Linked DNA regions of Homo sapiens: region 1 is linked to region 2. The links come from fine-mapping of genetic effects on gene expression. A gene starts in region 2. The other region holds a variant in brackets. All regions are shown on one strand. Distances are from middle to middle.

The links. PIP is the estimated chance that this variant, and not a neighbour inherited with it, causes the effect. A credible set is the group of variants that fine-mapping cannot tell apart.
Region 1: its variant is the best candidate, but not a certain one, in a credible set for the expression of MEIOC in prefrontal cortex (CommonMind, PIP 0.58).

What each region holds. Positions count from the first base shown.
Region 1 is chr17:44,621,423-44,629,754 of GRCh38, forward strand. No RefSeq gene overlaps it. Among named protein-coding and RNA genes, the nearest start is that of LINC01180, 25 kb to the right of the region's middle. RefSeq lists a silencer at 7,043-7,162 and an enhancer at 7,273-7,432. The variant TG/T (reference allele first, on the strand shown) is at 4,703.
Region 2 is chr17:44,651,766-44,660,097 of GRCh38, forward strand. It overlaps MEIOC (meiosis specific with coiled-coil domain), which reads left to right and starts at 4,703. Exons shown (of 8, transcript NM_001145080.3): 1 at 4,703-4,917; 2 at 5,362-5,496. The coding sequence starts at 4,849. RefSeq lists a silencer at 4,507-4,716.

The DNA of each region.
Region 1 (8,332 bases), 30 kb before region 2:
TCTGGTACATCTGTGTAGCCAGCCCTCTCTCCATTTCTATCCGTTTTTCAGGTCAAGGAGACCCAAAGTCCTGCCCTAGAGTTTTTCCTGGGAAGTTAATTAACTGACCATTCCTGCTCCCACTAGTGTGAACAGGGGGTGTCGGTAGGGATGAAACCCAGTCAGTCACTGACTGGGGAGTCTGACTTTGATGTGTTCTCTGGGGTGTGCATGCACGTGTGTGCATAAATGCCTCCTGGTTCTGACTGGCTCGAGTCAGTATAGAAGTAAGTTCTGGTGCTAAGAGCAGGCTGGATGGCTCACACACATTCTATAAATCCAAGGAAGCCAAAGTGAGATCCAAATTCTGCAGGGGTCAGCCCAAATCCTCCATCTAACCAGCCCTGCCACACTCTTCCCCATACTCATCCTCTGTCCCATGCGTACTCACCGCTCCCTGATCATGCCACATTCTTCCATTCTTCTGCAGCTTTGCCCATACTGTTCTCTCTGCATGGAATGCCCTTGCCCCCTCTTTTTCCTGACAACCCTAGTGTCTGCCTTTTGTATCACATGATATTGCAATGATCTGTATATATTATTATTATTATTATTTTAGACAGAGTCTCACTCTGTTGCCAGGCTAGAGTGCAGTGGTGTGATCTCTGTTCACGGCAACCTCCGCCTCCTGGGTTCGAGCAATTCTCCTGCCTCAGCCTCCCGAGTAGCTGGGATTACAGGCATGTGACATCACACCTGGCTAATTTTTGTATTTTTAGTAGAGACAGGGTTTCGCCATGTGGGTGAGGCTGATCTCGACCCCTTGACCTCAGATAATCCGCCTGCCTGGGCCTCCCAAAGTGCTAGGATTACAGGCGTAAACCACCATGCCCGGCGATCTGTATATATTAATAGCTCCACTTTCCTCAAGAGCAGAGACCATGCTCTACTCATTGCCATATCACTAGTGCTTGGCACACAATAATTTTCAACAAACACTGGTTGAACTAATGATTGAATGAACAGCTATTGCTCCCAGATTCAGCAACTATTTCTCCTCCATGTCTTTGCTCTGTCCAACTCCACCCCAATTCCCCGGGCTGCTATGAGAAGGGGCAAGGGTCCCAAAGGCTAGAGTGTAAAGTTTGGGCTGCATTCTTGAGGCCCCAGGGAGATTCTGCAGAGTCTCCGAAAACAGGGAAGGATTCCATGTTGTAGAGGTGGGCCCAGCAGGCCCACAGGCCCTCACACCCATAGTGGGAAAAGCCAGAGAATTCTGCAGGGTTTTTCTAATGTTGGGGAGGATGTCTCAAAGTCCGAAATAGCCTGTAAACATTGGGTTAAGTGTTAGGGTCTGCTGGGAATACTTAGACTGGGACTGAGCCAGTACCCTGCTGGAAGAAAATAATTCTGGCTGCTGAGGTGGGGGCAGGTGCAGTTGAAAAAAGCAGTCCTCAAGATCAGTGCTCCTGGCTGGGCGTGGTGGCTCACGCCTGTAATCCCAGCACTTTGGGAGGCCGAGGGGGGCAGATCACTTGAGGTCAGGAGTTCAAGACCAGCCTGGCCAACATGGTAAAACCCCATCTCTACTAAAAATACAAAAATTAGCCAGGTGAGGTGGCTTACACCTGTAATCCCAGCTACTCTCCTGAGGCAGGGGAATCACTTGAACCTGGGAGGCGGAGTTGGCAGTCAGCCGAGGTTGCACCACTGCACTCCAGCCTGGGTGACAGAGCAAAACTCCATCTGAAAAAAAATGAAATAAAAGATCAGTGCTCCTCACACTTGAATGTGCAAATTCCCTGGGAATCTTGTTAAAATGCAACTTCTGATTCAGAAGGTATGAGGTCAGCCCCAAGATCCTGCTTTTCTAACAAGCTCCCAGGTGATGGCACTGTTGGAAGGGTAGAGGAGGGGCCAGAACGCAGTTGGAATCACACTTTGAGTAGCAAAGACCTAGAAAACTAGCATTATGATCCAGACGCTGAGGATTCAGCCCTTAAAGGGAGTAGCTGCCATCAGCAACATCAGTAAGGTGTTCAGAAGATGATGCAGGAGACAATACACAAAGCAAGCCTGACAAAAATCTGGCCCGCGTGCCTACCCTTCCATTCTTTGATTCTGTGACCATGGCAGACATCACTAGTGGATCCCAGCACTATCTCCCACTAAGCCAAAAGGATGCTTCAGAATCCATCTCACCACAGTACTCCAGGTAGTCACCCAATTAATTACAGTTGGCATGAGAAATAACCCCACTTGCTATTTCTGGTATTGTGGTTAAGAGTCTGACTACTTTTGCTCCACTCTGGCTAGTTTGATGCCCTTACAGCAGCTTTCATGAACATCAGTTATTTAAATATGTTGTAATTTGAGGTAAAGAGAGCCCTCATTTTGTAGTTTTGGATGTTAAATGAGGCTGGGTGTGGTGGCTCGTGCCTGTAATCCCAGCACTTTGGGAGGCCAAGGCAGGAGGATTGCTTGAGCCCAGGGGTTTGAGACTAGCCTGGGCAACATAACAAGACCCCAACTCTACAAAAAAATTTTAAAAATTAGCCGGGTTTGGTGGTACACGCCTGTAGTCCCAGCTACTTGGGAGGCTGAGGCACAAGGATCTCTTGAGCTCAGGAGTTCAAGGCTGCAGTGAGCTATGATCACGCCACTGTATCCAGCCTGGGTGATGGAGTGAGATCTCGTCTCAATTAAAACAACAACAACAAAGAACATTAAATGATATTATGAATGTTAAGTGTCTGGCACATAGAATGTGCAGATATTCAATAAATGGTGGCTAGGCCTGTCACGGTGGCTCACGCCTGTAATCCCAGCACTTTGGGAGGCTGAGGAGTGCGGATCACTTGAGGTCAGGAGTTTAAGACCAGCCTGGCCAACATGGCAAAACCCCAACTCTACTAAAAATACAAAAAATTAGCTGGGTGTGGTGGTGTGCATCTGTAATCCCAGTTACTCGGGAGGCTGAGGCAGGAGAATCACTTGAACCCGGGAGGCAGAGGTTGCAGTGAGCCAAGCTCCTGTCACTGCACTCTGGCCTGGGCAACAGAGCCAAACTCTGTCTCAAAAATAAATAAAATAAAATAAAATAAAATAAAATAAATGGTGACTACCATGTAGAGGGGTGAATATATTGCCTGCACAGTTTGACAGGACATGGTGGTGGAATGGGAAAGAGGAAGAGAGGGAGACAGGAGCCAGAGTGCTGGGGTGGAGAAGAATAGGTGACAAAGGCTATTCCTGCCTGAGACTGTGGGCAGATTCCCAGCTCTCTTTGGTTGGCCCTGGGCTCCCTACTGACACTAAAGCTCTTTGAAAGAGGTGAGTGGCACTTGTCATCTTGAAATACCTGAGTACAGAACTTCTTTTCAAGGAGAGTTGTGAAAGACTCCAATATGGTCAAAAAGATTATTGTCTGTCCTTGTGTGTTATTTTCTAGTTTTATGGTCATCGAGCTATTTTACCACCCAATCAATGGAAATAATTCTTGTCCATAGAAATGCAAATTGCCTGGTGCATATGCAATTGATTATTGCTCAGTGGTTATTGACCAATTTAGCATCTATTAAGCAGATTTACTTCATCTTTTTTTTTTTTTCTGAGACAGCTCTGTTGCCCAGGCTGGAGTACAGTGGTGTGATCATGGCTCACTGCATCTTCAGCTTCCCGTGCTCAAGTGATCCTCTTGCCTCAGCCTTCTGAGTAGCTGGGACTACAGGTGTGCATCACCATCCTTAATTTTTTAAAATTATTTTTTGTAGATAAAATTTTTTGTAGATTATTTTTTGGATCTCATCATGTTGCCCAGGCTGGTCTTGAACTCCTGGGCTCAAGTGATCCTCCTACCTTGGTCTGTCAAAGTGCTGGCATTACAGATGTGAGCCACTGTGCCGTGCCTACTTAATCACTCTTTTTGTTTGGTTTGTTTTGTTCTAAGACGGGGTCTTGCTCTGTCACCCAGGCTGGAGTGCAGAGGCATGATCTTAGCTCACTGCAGCCTCAATCTCCTGAGTAGCTGGGACTACAGGTGCACATCACCATGCCTGACTAATTTTTTAAATTTTTGGAAGAGACAGGGTCTCACTATGTTGCCCAGGTTGCTACTTCATCATTCTTTTTTTTTTTTTTTTTCTTTTTTTTGAGACAGAGTCTCACTCCGTTCACCCAGGCTGGAGTGCAATGGTGCGAACGTGGCTCACTGCAACCTCCGCCTCCCAGGCTCAAGTGATTCTTATCCCTCTGACTCCCTAGTAGTTGGGATTACAGGCATGCACCCCCATGCCTGGCTAATTTTTGTATTTTTAGTAGAGACAGTGTTTTGCCATGTTGGCCAGGCTGGTCTTGAACTCCTAGCCTCAAGTGATCCACCTGCCTCAGCCTCCCAAAGTGCTGGGATTACAGGTGTGAGCCACAACGCCCAGCCTATTTCATCATTCTGGATGGCCTAAATACGTCTCTGCTCTTTGGATCGTCCTTTGAACTGACTGTAACATCTTACTGGTTCCTTCACTAATTAATGAGTTAAATAAAAATTTTGACACGATTATTGTATATTTCTATGAGAGTAATTATTTTGCTTTGTAAAAAAAACCTTTTTTTTTGACATTCTCATTAACAATGAAGATTGGGCAGGAGGTTTCCAAGACCCTCTGCCCCGGACAAGCTTTTCCACAGGCTCCAATCGCCATTACATCTGTCAGGTTGTTTTTTT[TG/T]TTTTGTTTTGTTTTTGAGACGGAGTCTTGCTCTGTCTCCAGGCTGGAGTGCAGTAGCACGATCTTGGCTCACTGCAACCTCCGCCTCCCAGGTTCAAACGATTCTCCTGCCTCAGCCTCCAGAGTAGCTTGGACTATAGGTGCACGCCACCATACCCAGATCATTTTTGTATTTTTAGTAGAGACAAAGTTTCACCATGTTGGTCAGGATGGTCTTAATCTCTTGACCTCATGATCTGCCCGTCTTGGCCTCCCAAAGTGCTGGGATTACAGGCATGAGCCACCACGTCCGGCTCATCTGTCAGGTTTATAGGGGATTACCCCCACTTCATTGCTTGTTTTATGCCATCCAAATAGATACATAATTATTCAATATTTGAGCTGGACACATTCTCAAACATTTATATGAGTTTGTTTAACAAAACATATAACAAACCTACAAGTACCACACCAAATACTTATCCATGTATTCATTCAATGATAGGAAGTTGCATGTGGCAGGGACTGCATTTGTGCCTCTTTTGAGCTTAGCAAGTGCCTAACTCATGGTAAGTACTAAAGACACATCCACTGAGCCAACACATGAATGAATAAGCCCAGCAAGACTTTACTAAGTGTTTACTATGTGGTGAACATTGTTTTAAACACTTTATTTAATTTAATCCTCAAACTAGTTACATGGTAGGTACAATTAATTACTATCCTCATTTACACATAATACAGAGAGGTGAATGAACTTGCTCAAGGTCAACAGCTAGCCATGGCTGAGGCAGAATTCAAGCCCTGGTAGCCTGGCTCCTGAGCCTATGATCTTGGGCACCCATATGCGCCAGGCATCTTGCTAGGTTCTGATATACAGAGATAAAAGACACACCAAACACAGACTTTCCTTAAGGAGGTCACACTGAAGAAAGGCAACAAATAACTAAAAAGAATGTGACGTGCTCTGGCAAGTGAGAACACGATGCTAGGGACAGAGGGTGTCAGAGGGTTGGACAGGTGTGGTTGACGGCAGAGGGGCCACCTGACCTGAGGCAAGTTCTGAGGCTACTGGTAGTTAATGTTCAGATCAGAGGAAGGGAAGAGCATTCAGGCCACTGGTATGGTTGGTCTGAGAAGGTGAGAGTCCCGAGGCCGGAGCCCAGAAGTGCAGAGAAGTGAAACTGGAGAGAGGAGCCAGGTCCAGATCCTGGAAAGCTTCACTTGCTGAGGGAGGAAGGGTGTTGGGATACCCCTTGGAGGCCTCGCAGGACTGTTCGCAAGGGAGATATGAACTCAGATGCCACACTCCACCTGCCCTGCCCAGGACACGAAACCCAGTACACAGAATTCCCTACAAGCTGTATCCCACTCGGGAGAGTTCCCCGGGAGGGCTAGACAGGAGGGCAGTGCTAACTGAGTGTGGGACACAGCCAGTGCCACCTGGGAGCCATGGCTGGGAGTCTCTCTCCAAGCCCTCCCCCACAATCCCTTCAGTCACCCCCCACCCACCCTTGCCAGCTCAGACACTCAGGCACACTCCCTCCGGTCACATCCCCCTTGAGGCCAGAGATAAGAATAAGCAACATGTCTCTTCCCACATCCCTTCCCTGCCCGCCCTCTGATTCTACCATCCAAAGCAGCTGCAGAGCCTGGAACACCCCAGGCCCCAGTCAGAGGAGGGAGCATGGGGAGATGGGAGCTTCCTGGGGGGGCCGTGGCTATGGGCTGTGCCCTCCCCTCCCACAGGGCTGAGGCTGGTGATTAGTTGGGTTAATTATATCCGAGCCATTTCCGATTGGCACAAGCCCACCCACCCACAGAGCCTGCCCAGAAGGCAGGCAGGCCGGGCCCAGGTCAGGATGCTGGGGCACCAGCTCCTCTAGGTGGATTCCTGACCCCTGTGCTGATGGCCAAACGGAGGCTGATTGTCCTCCCTGCTCCAGGACGGCCTCCTCTTCACTCACCAACTTTCTTACCCATCCCTCTGTTTTCTTTGTACCAACACAAGTCCCTCTCACTCCCCTCTCCTCCCCCCAGGTTTGGAATGAAATCATGGGGCCCTGAGTTCCGCAGTAGGCCCTGACATAAACACTTTGATTGGGGCTAATTATAAGGGCCAGGCTGAGAGGCTGGAGCCTTCGGAAAGCTTTGGCTTTCAAATAAAGGGCCCACGGCTCAGTCCCTAGCCCAGGCGGCTCTCTTCCAGGCTTCCTTATGAATGAGGGGTTCCAGAAAGAGGCAGTCCTCTAGAAACCCCGTGGTCTGTGGGCTCGCTCCATGTCCCACGCCTCATCTTGTCCCTTCTCGGTTGCTTTTGCCTTGGCCCTTCCAGGCCTCAGATCCCAGGGCCTTGCCGGATGGCTTGGCAGAGCCACCAGTCGGCCGTGGAAGACAAGGCAGCAGGGGAGGAGCTCTCAGGCTGGGAGGCAGGGGCAGCGGCAGGGGCAGGGTCAGGGGAGGCGCAGGGGAAGCCAGCTGTGACAGCCCAAGCCCTAATTAGTCGGCTTCAAAGCCGGCCGGAGAGAGAGCCCGCCTGCTTGTGTGCCCTGCTCACTCAGGCGAGTAAGACATTTCTGTCCCAATCAGAGGAGAGAGAGAAAGAAAAACACGGCCCACCGCCACCCCGAAGAGCCTTTAGACACTGGGCTGGTACCCCGAGTCAGGGAGAAAAACTGAGAACCCAGGAAATCATTCTCTTCTGTTGAAACTGATACGTAAGTGCTAGGAAGGGAAGTGTGTGGTGCCTTTAAATGATACAGAAAGGGGTAACGGAAGTGCTGGGTACAGGAGGGCGTAGTCCTTGGCTAGGGCTCCACCCCCACGGACCTAGGTGAGGACAGGCATTTTTGTTTTCCTGCCCAAATGTTGCGTTTCCCAAGTCCACCCTGTCCTGCCACGCCCCCATCCTGTGCCTATAAAAACCCGAGATCTACCCCCCCCAAGGAAAGCCAAGCCAAGCCGCTGGATGTTGAGGAGGAGCACGTCAGCGGAGGCACACACATTGGCTAGGCGTTGAGAGGAACGCACTGATAGGCACCGGCATGCTGGCAGGCCACTGATCAGGCAGAGCAACACAGAGTTTGGCTGAGGCAGTCAGAGGAGAGCGCGGGCCACCGAGCGGCCTGATTCCTAGGCGACAACCATTTACCTTCTGGCTGTCCCATATTCTGAGAGCGACTTCCACTCAATAAAACCTTGCACTCATACTCCAAGCCCACATGTGATCCGATTCTGGTACACCAAGGGAAGAACCCCGGGATACAGAAAGCCCTCTGTTCTCGGTCTCTGCGCCAAGGAAGAAGTCTAATTGAGCTGGTAAGACAAGCCACTTATCGACAGCAAAGCTGAAAGAGCACCCTGTAACACGCGCCCACTGGGGCGCCAGGAGCTGTAAGCATTCACTCTTAGACACTGCGGTAGGGCCGGAGCCCCACAGCCTGCCTGTCTGTATGTCTCCCCTAGAAGTTTGAGCAGCGGGGCACTGAAGAAGCGAGCCACACCCCTATCGTATGCCCTGCAAGGGGGACAAGGGAACTCTTCCCATTTCACTAGCACTTTGGGAGGCCATGACAGGAGGATCACTTGAGGTTAGGAGTTAGAGGCCAGCCTGGGCAACATGGTGAAACCCCATCGCTACAAAAAATACA
Region 2 (8,332 bases):
TCCAGCACTTTGGGAGGATTGCTTGAGGCCAGAAGTTCAAGACCAGCCTGGGCAACACAGAAAGACCCTGTTTTTACAAAAAAAAAAAAAAAAATATATATATATATATATATATATGTATGTATATATATACATATATATATATTTTTTTTTTTTTTTAAAGAAAGAAAAAGAGACTGGGTGTGGTGCCTGTAATCCCAGCACTTTGGGAGGCTGAGTGGGGAGGATCACTTGAAGCCAGGAGTTTGAGTATTCAGTAAGCTATGATCATGCCACTGTGGTCTACCAGTCTACGCTGGGCAGCAGAGCAAGATCCCATCTCTCTCTCTCAATCTCTGTGTGTGTGTGTATACATATATATATATATACACACACATACAGTAATACATATATATAGTAATTTCAGATTACCATAGATTACTATATATAGATCTATACAGGGATATATAGATATATATAGATCTATAGATATATCTCCCTGTCTATATATAGAGATAGATATATATAGATAGATATACAGAGATAGATCTCTCTATATCTATTTATATCTATCTATATGTATATCTATAGAGAGAGAAATTTTAAAAAGAAAAAATAGGCTGGGTGCAGTGGCTCACGCCTGTAATCCTAGCACTTTGGGAGGCCGAGGCAGGCGGATTGCCTGAGCTCAGGAGTTCGAGACCAGCCTGGGTAACATGGAAAAACCCTGTCTCTACTAAAAATACAAAAATTTAGCCAGGCGTGGTTGTGCGTGCCTGTAATCCCAGCTACTCGGGAGGCTGAGGCATGAAAATCCCTTGAACCTGGGAGGCAGAGGTTACAATGAACCAAGATCGTGCCACTCTACTCCAGGCTGGGTGACAGAGGGAGACTCTGTCTCAAAAAAAAAAAAAGAAAGAAAGAAAGAAAAAGAAAAAGAAAATAACAAGTGTTGGTGAGGATGTGGAGAAATGGGAACTCTCATGCATTGTTGGTGAGAATGTAAAATGGTGCAGCCACAGTGTAAAACATTTTGGAATTACTCAAGACATCGAATACAATTACCATATGTCCCAACAATACCACTCTTAGGTATATACCCAAAATAATTGGAAAAAAAATTAATCAAATACTTGTACACCAATGTTTCTAGCAGTACTACGCACAATAGTGAAAAGTTGAGAGCCAAGCGCGGTGACTCATGCCTGTAATCACTTTGAGAGGTCAAGGCAGGCAGATCACTTGAGGTCAAGAGGTCGAGAACACCCTGGCCAACATGGTGAGATCCCATTTCTATTAAAAATACAAAAATTAGGCGGGGCACGGTGGCTCAAACCTGTAATCCCAGCACTGTGGGAGGCTGAGGCAGGCGGATCACCAGAGGTCAGGAGTTCGAGGCCAGCCTGTCCAACATGGCAAAACCCTGTCTCTACTAAAAATACAAAAATCAGCCAGGCATGGTGATTCATGCCTGTAATCCCAGCTACTCAGGAGGCTGAGACAGGAGAATCACTTGAACCCAGGAGGCAGAGGTTGCAGTGAGCTGAGATCATGCCACTGCACTCCAACCTGGGTGACAGAGCAAGACTCTGTCTCAAAAAAAAAAAAAAATTAGCCAGGTTTGGTGGCACATGCCTGTAATCCCAGCTCCTGGGGAAGCTGAGGCAGGAGAATCATCTGAACGATTCCTCCGATAAGGGGGAGGTTGCAGTGAGCCAAGATTGCGCCTGCACTCCAGCCTGCAGCACAGAGCAAGACTCTGACTCAAAAAAAAAAAAAAAAGGTGGAAACCACCCATGTGTCCATAAACAGATGAATGCTTGAACAAAATGTGGTATATCCATACAATGGAACCTTAGTCAGCCATAAAAAGGAATGACATTCAGGTATATGCTATAACATGAAGGAACCTTGATGACAAGGTTTATTTTACCTTAGTAAAATAAGCCAGGCACAAAAGGATAAATATTGTATGATTCCACTTATATATGGTACCTAGAGTAGTCAAATTCATAGAGATAGAAAGTAGAATGGTGGTTGCCAGAACTGGGAGAAGGGGGCATGGGGAATAATTATTTATGGGATGCTGCAGAGTTTCTGTTTGTGATTAATGAAGTTCTGAAACTGTAGAGCGGTCATGGTTACACAACATTATGAATGTGCTTAATGCCACTTAACCAAACACTTAAAAACGACAAATCTTATGTATATTTTACTATAAAAATACATAAGGGGATTCATAGCTTTTCAAAATGCTTCTAGGGAGTATAGGAGAGGGGGAAAAAGCCAGTAGTCCTCAATGCAATGAGCCCTACACCAGCAACTTTAAGGCTGAGGCAGAGAAATGTAACTGTTAGAGCCACACCACCTGGTCAGCTTTTTTTAAGTGTGTGTGCGTGTGTGTGTGTTTGTGTGTGTGTGTGTGTGTGTGCATGCACATTTTGTTTTTCCTTTTTGTGGAGCACTATATTCCCCAGGCAAATCTCAAACTCCTGGGCTCAATCTATCCTCCTGCCTTTGCTTCCCTAAATGCTGGGATTACAGGTGTGAGTCCAGCAGCTTTTTTTCTTTTCTTTCTTCCTTTTTTTTTTTTTTTTTTTTTGAAACAGGGTCTTGCTCTGTTGCCCAGGCTGGAGTGTGATGGAGTGATTATGGCTCACTGCATCCTCCAACTCTCCAGCTCAGGCGATCCTCCCATCTCAGCCTCCCAAGTGCAGGTACCTGGGACTACAGGCACACACCACCACACCCAACTAATTGTTAATTTTTTTGTAGAGACGAAGTCTCCTTATGTTGCCCTGGCTGGGCAACTCCTGGGCTCAAGCAATCCTCCTGCCTCGGCCTCCCAAAGTGCTGGGATTACAGGCACAAGCCACTGCGCCCAGCCTTGGTGAGCTTTCTGAACTCAAAGCTGAGTAGAGACCTGAAGTAACTATCAGGACAATATGGGTCAATAAAACTCATCCTCCTACTTCCATTCGTGTCTGAGTTAAAACAGTATCTTCCACTTAAGTGCTCATTTCTCAAGTTTTGATTTTAAATATAAAAACAGCCTAAAGGTGCTTACTGTGTTTACTTCTTTTATATTTCAACTATCTGATTTTTTAGCAGTGTCTAGGGACAAAAACTAGCATTTCTCTGAGACCATCACATCCCCAATCTGACTGCTATGTGAATGGTTTGTTGGGTGCCTGGAATGGCTTGTTTATGTAAGCTCTCACCTGTAATCCCACACTTTGGGAGGCCGAGGCGGAGGATCACTTCAGGCCAAGAGTTCAGTTCAAGACCAGCCTGAGCAACATAAGGAGATCCAACCCCCTACCCCCATCCCCACCTCCAACCCCAGCTCTACAAAAAAATTAAAAAATTAGCTAGGGCCAGGCGCCGTGGCTCACGCCTGTAATCCCAGAATTTTGGGAGGCCGAGGCGGGCGGATCACGAGGTCAAGAGATCGAGACCATCCTGGACAACATGGTGAAATTCCCGTCTCTACTAAAAATACAAAAATTAGCGGGGCGTGGTGGCGTGGGCCTGTAGTCCTAGCTACTCGGGAGGCTGAGGCGGGAGAATCGCTTGAACCCGGGAGGCGGAGGTTGCAGTGAGCCTTTGCGCCACCGCACTCTAGCCTGGCGACAGTGAGACTCCATCTCACCAAAAAAAAAAAAAAAAAAAAAATTAGCTGGGAGTGGTGGCACGCGCCTGTAGCCCCAACTACTCGGGAGGCTGAGGCGGGAGGATCGCTCGAGACCAGGAGTTTGAGACCAGCCTGGGCAACATAAGGAGACCCAACCCCCCCGCCCTTCAGCTTTACAAAAAAATTAAAAAATTAGCCAGGAGTGGTGGCGCCGCGTGCCTGCAGCCCCAGCTACTCGGGAGGCTGAGGCGGGAGGGTCGCTTGAACCCGGGAGTTCAAGGCTGCAACGAGCTATGATAGCGCCACTGCACTCCAGCCTGGGCGACAGAGCAAGACCCTGTTTTACACAGACAAACAAAAACGAACAAAAAGGTCACAGCGAACTTTGTTCAAAAGTCACATTAACACTTAAATGCCTTAACCCGGACTGAAAGCCCGGGCTTAGGACACAGGGCAGCTCTCCCTCAAAAAGGGGTCTCCCAGCAACACCCAATCCACAAGTTGCTCCTCGCCCTCCCCAAACCGGTACAAGATATATCAGTCTCTGGGCAGCTCCAACGGATTCTGAAGCTACGGGAGGGACTAAGGAACAAATATGAAATGTCGGACAAATGAAATGTGCGCAACAGCTAGGTTTTGGAGGATAAGCCAGTTGCTGAGCGACTTCTCAAATCTTCCAAGTGCCTCCAACACCTCTCCCACCCGGTAGGGCTGCGCTCTTTAGCTCTTTCAACCTTCCACGACCGGCCTCTCCGCTGCCCTATCAGCAAATCATCGGGCCGGTGCCTGCCAGTCCGGGCCAATCCCGAACACATTTACTTTGAGCGGGAAAAGCTCAGAAGCGGCGAGAGAGCGTGGTCCGCTAACCGCCCCTTCCTCTCCTTGTCTCTGGGGGGTAACGGAGCCTGGAGTGGTCGCCCATTGGATGGGCATCGGACCAATGGCGGGCTGCGAAACGGGAGGGGCGGGCCTCACAGCGGGGCGGGGCGCGCCTGTGCCGTGTCGCGTGCCGAGCCGCGAGCCCCAGGCAGGCCAGGTAACGGCCTCTGCCCCCGCCCCTCCCTCCCCGCTCGGACTTCCCTTACCCGCACACTGGCTCCAGGCAGCGCCCGGGCGGCGGAGGCGGCTGCGGAGACGGCGGGGTGCGGGCTGAGGGAGCCGGGCCTGGACGCCCCCCCCATCACCCCCGTACCCCAGGAGCTGTGCCTAGTCCAGGAGAGGCTGGGGGGCGCCCCATGGAGGTGAGACGCGGAGACACCTGCCCGCGCCCTCACCCCTCAGGCCTGAGGGAGGAAGGACTTGAGGTAATGGATGAGGAAGGGCAGGGTCCAGGGGGCGGCCAGACTTGCAAGAGGCGACGAGGAGGAGAGGCTGAGGAGGGGGCGCGTCCCTAGACGGGGCGGCAGAGGCGGGTCGTCGGTGGGGAGGCCGAACGGGGCGGGCGGGCGGGGGGCGCGGCGCGGGCTGACTGGACGGGCCGGACGGAGCGCGGGTCGCCGCGATTCCCGGGAGGCAGCCGTCGCGCTGAGGCGGTGGCCGGGGAGGGGCGCCCCTCGGGGTCAGCACTCAGGGGGCCCGAGGGGAGAGTGAGAATCCCGAGGCTGGAAGCGCGGGCCCCCACATTCGTGTCCTCTGAGAGGGTTCGGAATTGAGCCGAACAGCCGAGGTAGAACAGGTGTCGGGCCGTTTCAGCTCCGGCGTCACCCTCGTGACCACTTTCTGATATTTCCTATTCCCGTGTGCTGCAGCCCAAAGTCGCGTTCCCCGGAGGTGCGAATCGCTGTTGGAACCTCGGCGCCGACGCCGGCAGCAGGTTAACCGACGTCTTCGGCAGCGTGATGTTGACTGGCTCCGCTTCCTTCTACGATTGCTACACATCGCAGGTCCTTTAGTAAACTCTGCCTCTGTTAGACGATTTATTCTCAAATGGATTTACTCGAGCCACCGATTCATAGGTGTTTAATGGCTCCACAGTTAAGGAAGAGAAAACCAGGGAAAACTTTTTTTTTTTTTTTTTTTTTTTGAGACAGAGTCTTGCTCTGTCTCCTAGGCTGGAGTGCAGTGGCGCCATCTCGGCTCACTGCAACCTCCGCCAGCCGGGCTCAGGCGATTCTTGTGCCTCAGCTTCCTGAGGCACGCGCCACCACGCCCGGCTGTTTTTTTTGTTTGTTTTGTTTTTGTTTTTTGTTTTTGAGATGGAGTTTTGCTCTTGTTGCCCAGGCTGGAGTGCAGTGGTGCGATCTCGGCTCACCTCAACCTCTGCCTCCGGGGCTCAAGTTATTCTCCTGCCTCAGCCTCCGGAGTAGCTGGGATTACAGGCATGCGCCACCACGCCTGGCTAATTTTGTATTTTTAGTAGAGACAGGGTTTCTCCATGTTGGTCAGGCTGGTCTCGAACTCCCAACCTCGGGTGATCCGCGCACCTCGGCCTCCCAAAGTGCTGGGATTACAGGCATGAGCCACCGCGTCCAGCCGTTTTGTTTTGTTTTTTGAGACGGAGTCTCCTTCTGTTGCCCAGGCTGGAGTGCAGTGGTGCGATCTCGGATCACTGCAACCTCTGTCTCCCTGGTTCAAGCAGTTCTTCCGTCTCAGCCTCCCCAGTAGCTGGGATTACAGGCACCTGCCATCATGCCCGGCTAATTTTTGTATTGTTTTTAGAGACCGGGTTTCACCATGTTCCCCAGGCTGGTCTCGAACTTCTGGGCTCCAGCCATCCTCCCGCCTCGGCCTCCCAAAGTGCTAGGATTTCAGGCCACAGCGCCCAGCCCAGGAACAATTTTTTTTTTTTTTTTTTGAGACGGAGTCTTGCTCTGTCGCCCAGGCTGGAGTGCAGTGACGCAATCTCCGCTCACTGCAAGCTCCACCTCCCAGGTTCACGCCATTCTCCTGCCTCAGCCTCCCGAGTAGCTGGGACTACAGGCACCCGCCACCACGCCCGGCTAATTTTTTTGTATTTTTAGTAGATACGGGGTTTCACTGTGTTAGCCAGTATGGTCTCGATCTCCTGACCTCGTGATCCGCTCGCCTCAGCCTCCCAAAGTGCTGGGATTACAGGCGTGAGCCACCGCGCCCGGCTACAATCTTTTAAATACAGTGTTTGCAGAATACATACTTTGCTTTGAAAATAAGTTAAGGGCCGGGCGCCATGGCTCGTGCCTGTAATCCCAGCACTCTGGGGGGCTGAGGCGGGTGGATCACCTGAGTTCGGGAGTTCAAGACCAGCCTGGCCAACATGGCGAAACCCCATCTCTACTAAAAATACAAAAATCAGCCGGGTGTGGGGGCAGGCACCTGTAATCCCAGCTACTTGGGAGACTGAGGCAGGAGAATCTTAAACCAGGGAGGTGGAGGTTGCAGTGAGCCAAGATCATGCCACTGCACTCCAGCCTGGGTGACAGAGTGAGACTCCCTCTCAAAAAAAAAAAAAAAAGAAAAAAGAAAACAAATTGAAGAATAAGATTTTTCATTGATTCGTTTCCATCTTGTCCTTAGCATAACATAATTCCAGAAATGTAAGAAAATCCATTATTTAGTAAGATTAAAATATGTTTTTTTTCGTTCAGGCATTTATTGCAAGTTGGTACAAACATATTTTTGATAATTTAAAGGTGAAAATTTCACTTTACTCCTTTATTTTCTGGTTTTAACAATGTCTTAAATTATATGCTACCACTTACCTCACCAAGACATTTAGATTTATTAATCAAAGGAAATAAAGCTTGGGTAATGTAAGTAATTTTCATTTGAAATTATTTAACCAGGACATCAATGTTGATATTGTTGTACTTTGAATTATAACAATATCTAGAAATAAATTATTTTATTTAATCCACACTAAGAATCTTGTATATTATTATGCCACTGTACAGATTGAGAAACTGAGCCTCAGAGAGCTTGATTTGTGCCCTAAATGACAAAGCTCAAGTGGAACCCAGACCATAGTTCCACTGCTCTCTGCAGTGTTTACATCCGGACTAAAATTTATTTGGATTTAATTTCAGTTCACTGTTTTAAGTATGTTAAGGATATAAGTGATACATTTTAAAGTTAATCCAGTTAATATGCCCACTCAAATATTTGCATATTTCCTGGCCTCTGTTAACGAAAGGGATGCAGATATTTCAAGTATGATTGTTTGAATCCACCACATTACTTTAGTTGTTTTAACCCAAGAATACAAAAGTTAAGTCAGTCCTTTAAAAGGATTTTATTTGTAATATTCAAAATGTATTTTAAAATGTAAAATGTACTTGAAAGAATACTCCCAAAATATTTTCAATTTCCAATACTGTTTATTCATTTGACATTACATAATCTGAAAATGTTCCTTTTGTTTAAGCAACTATTTCAAAAAGATGAACAATTATTTATGTCACTTTGGATACTTCACACATAAGAGTGGGCCTATGATGATAACTTTAGAACTCAAAGGATAAAATTAGGAAAGAAAGATAAAAAGCCTTTGTAAAAGTTGCTGCTAACCAACAAATTCTGGAAAGGTAGTTTTTAGTTTTAGCTCTCAGCAAAATCCCTTCTGTGTTTCCATTTCCTCAACTTGAGAATAGTCATAATATAAACTATAAACAGAAAAATTATAATGTGTGGGTTTTAAATAGAATCATAACCAGAACTTAAACAAATGGTTGTAAAATATTTTGAGATTCTTGAAGATGGATGATTGGAAGGTATTTCTTAATGTTCACATTTTGTTGGTATCAT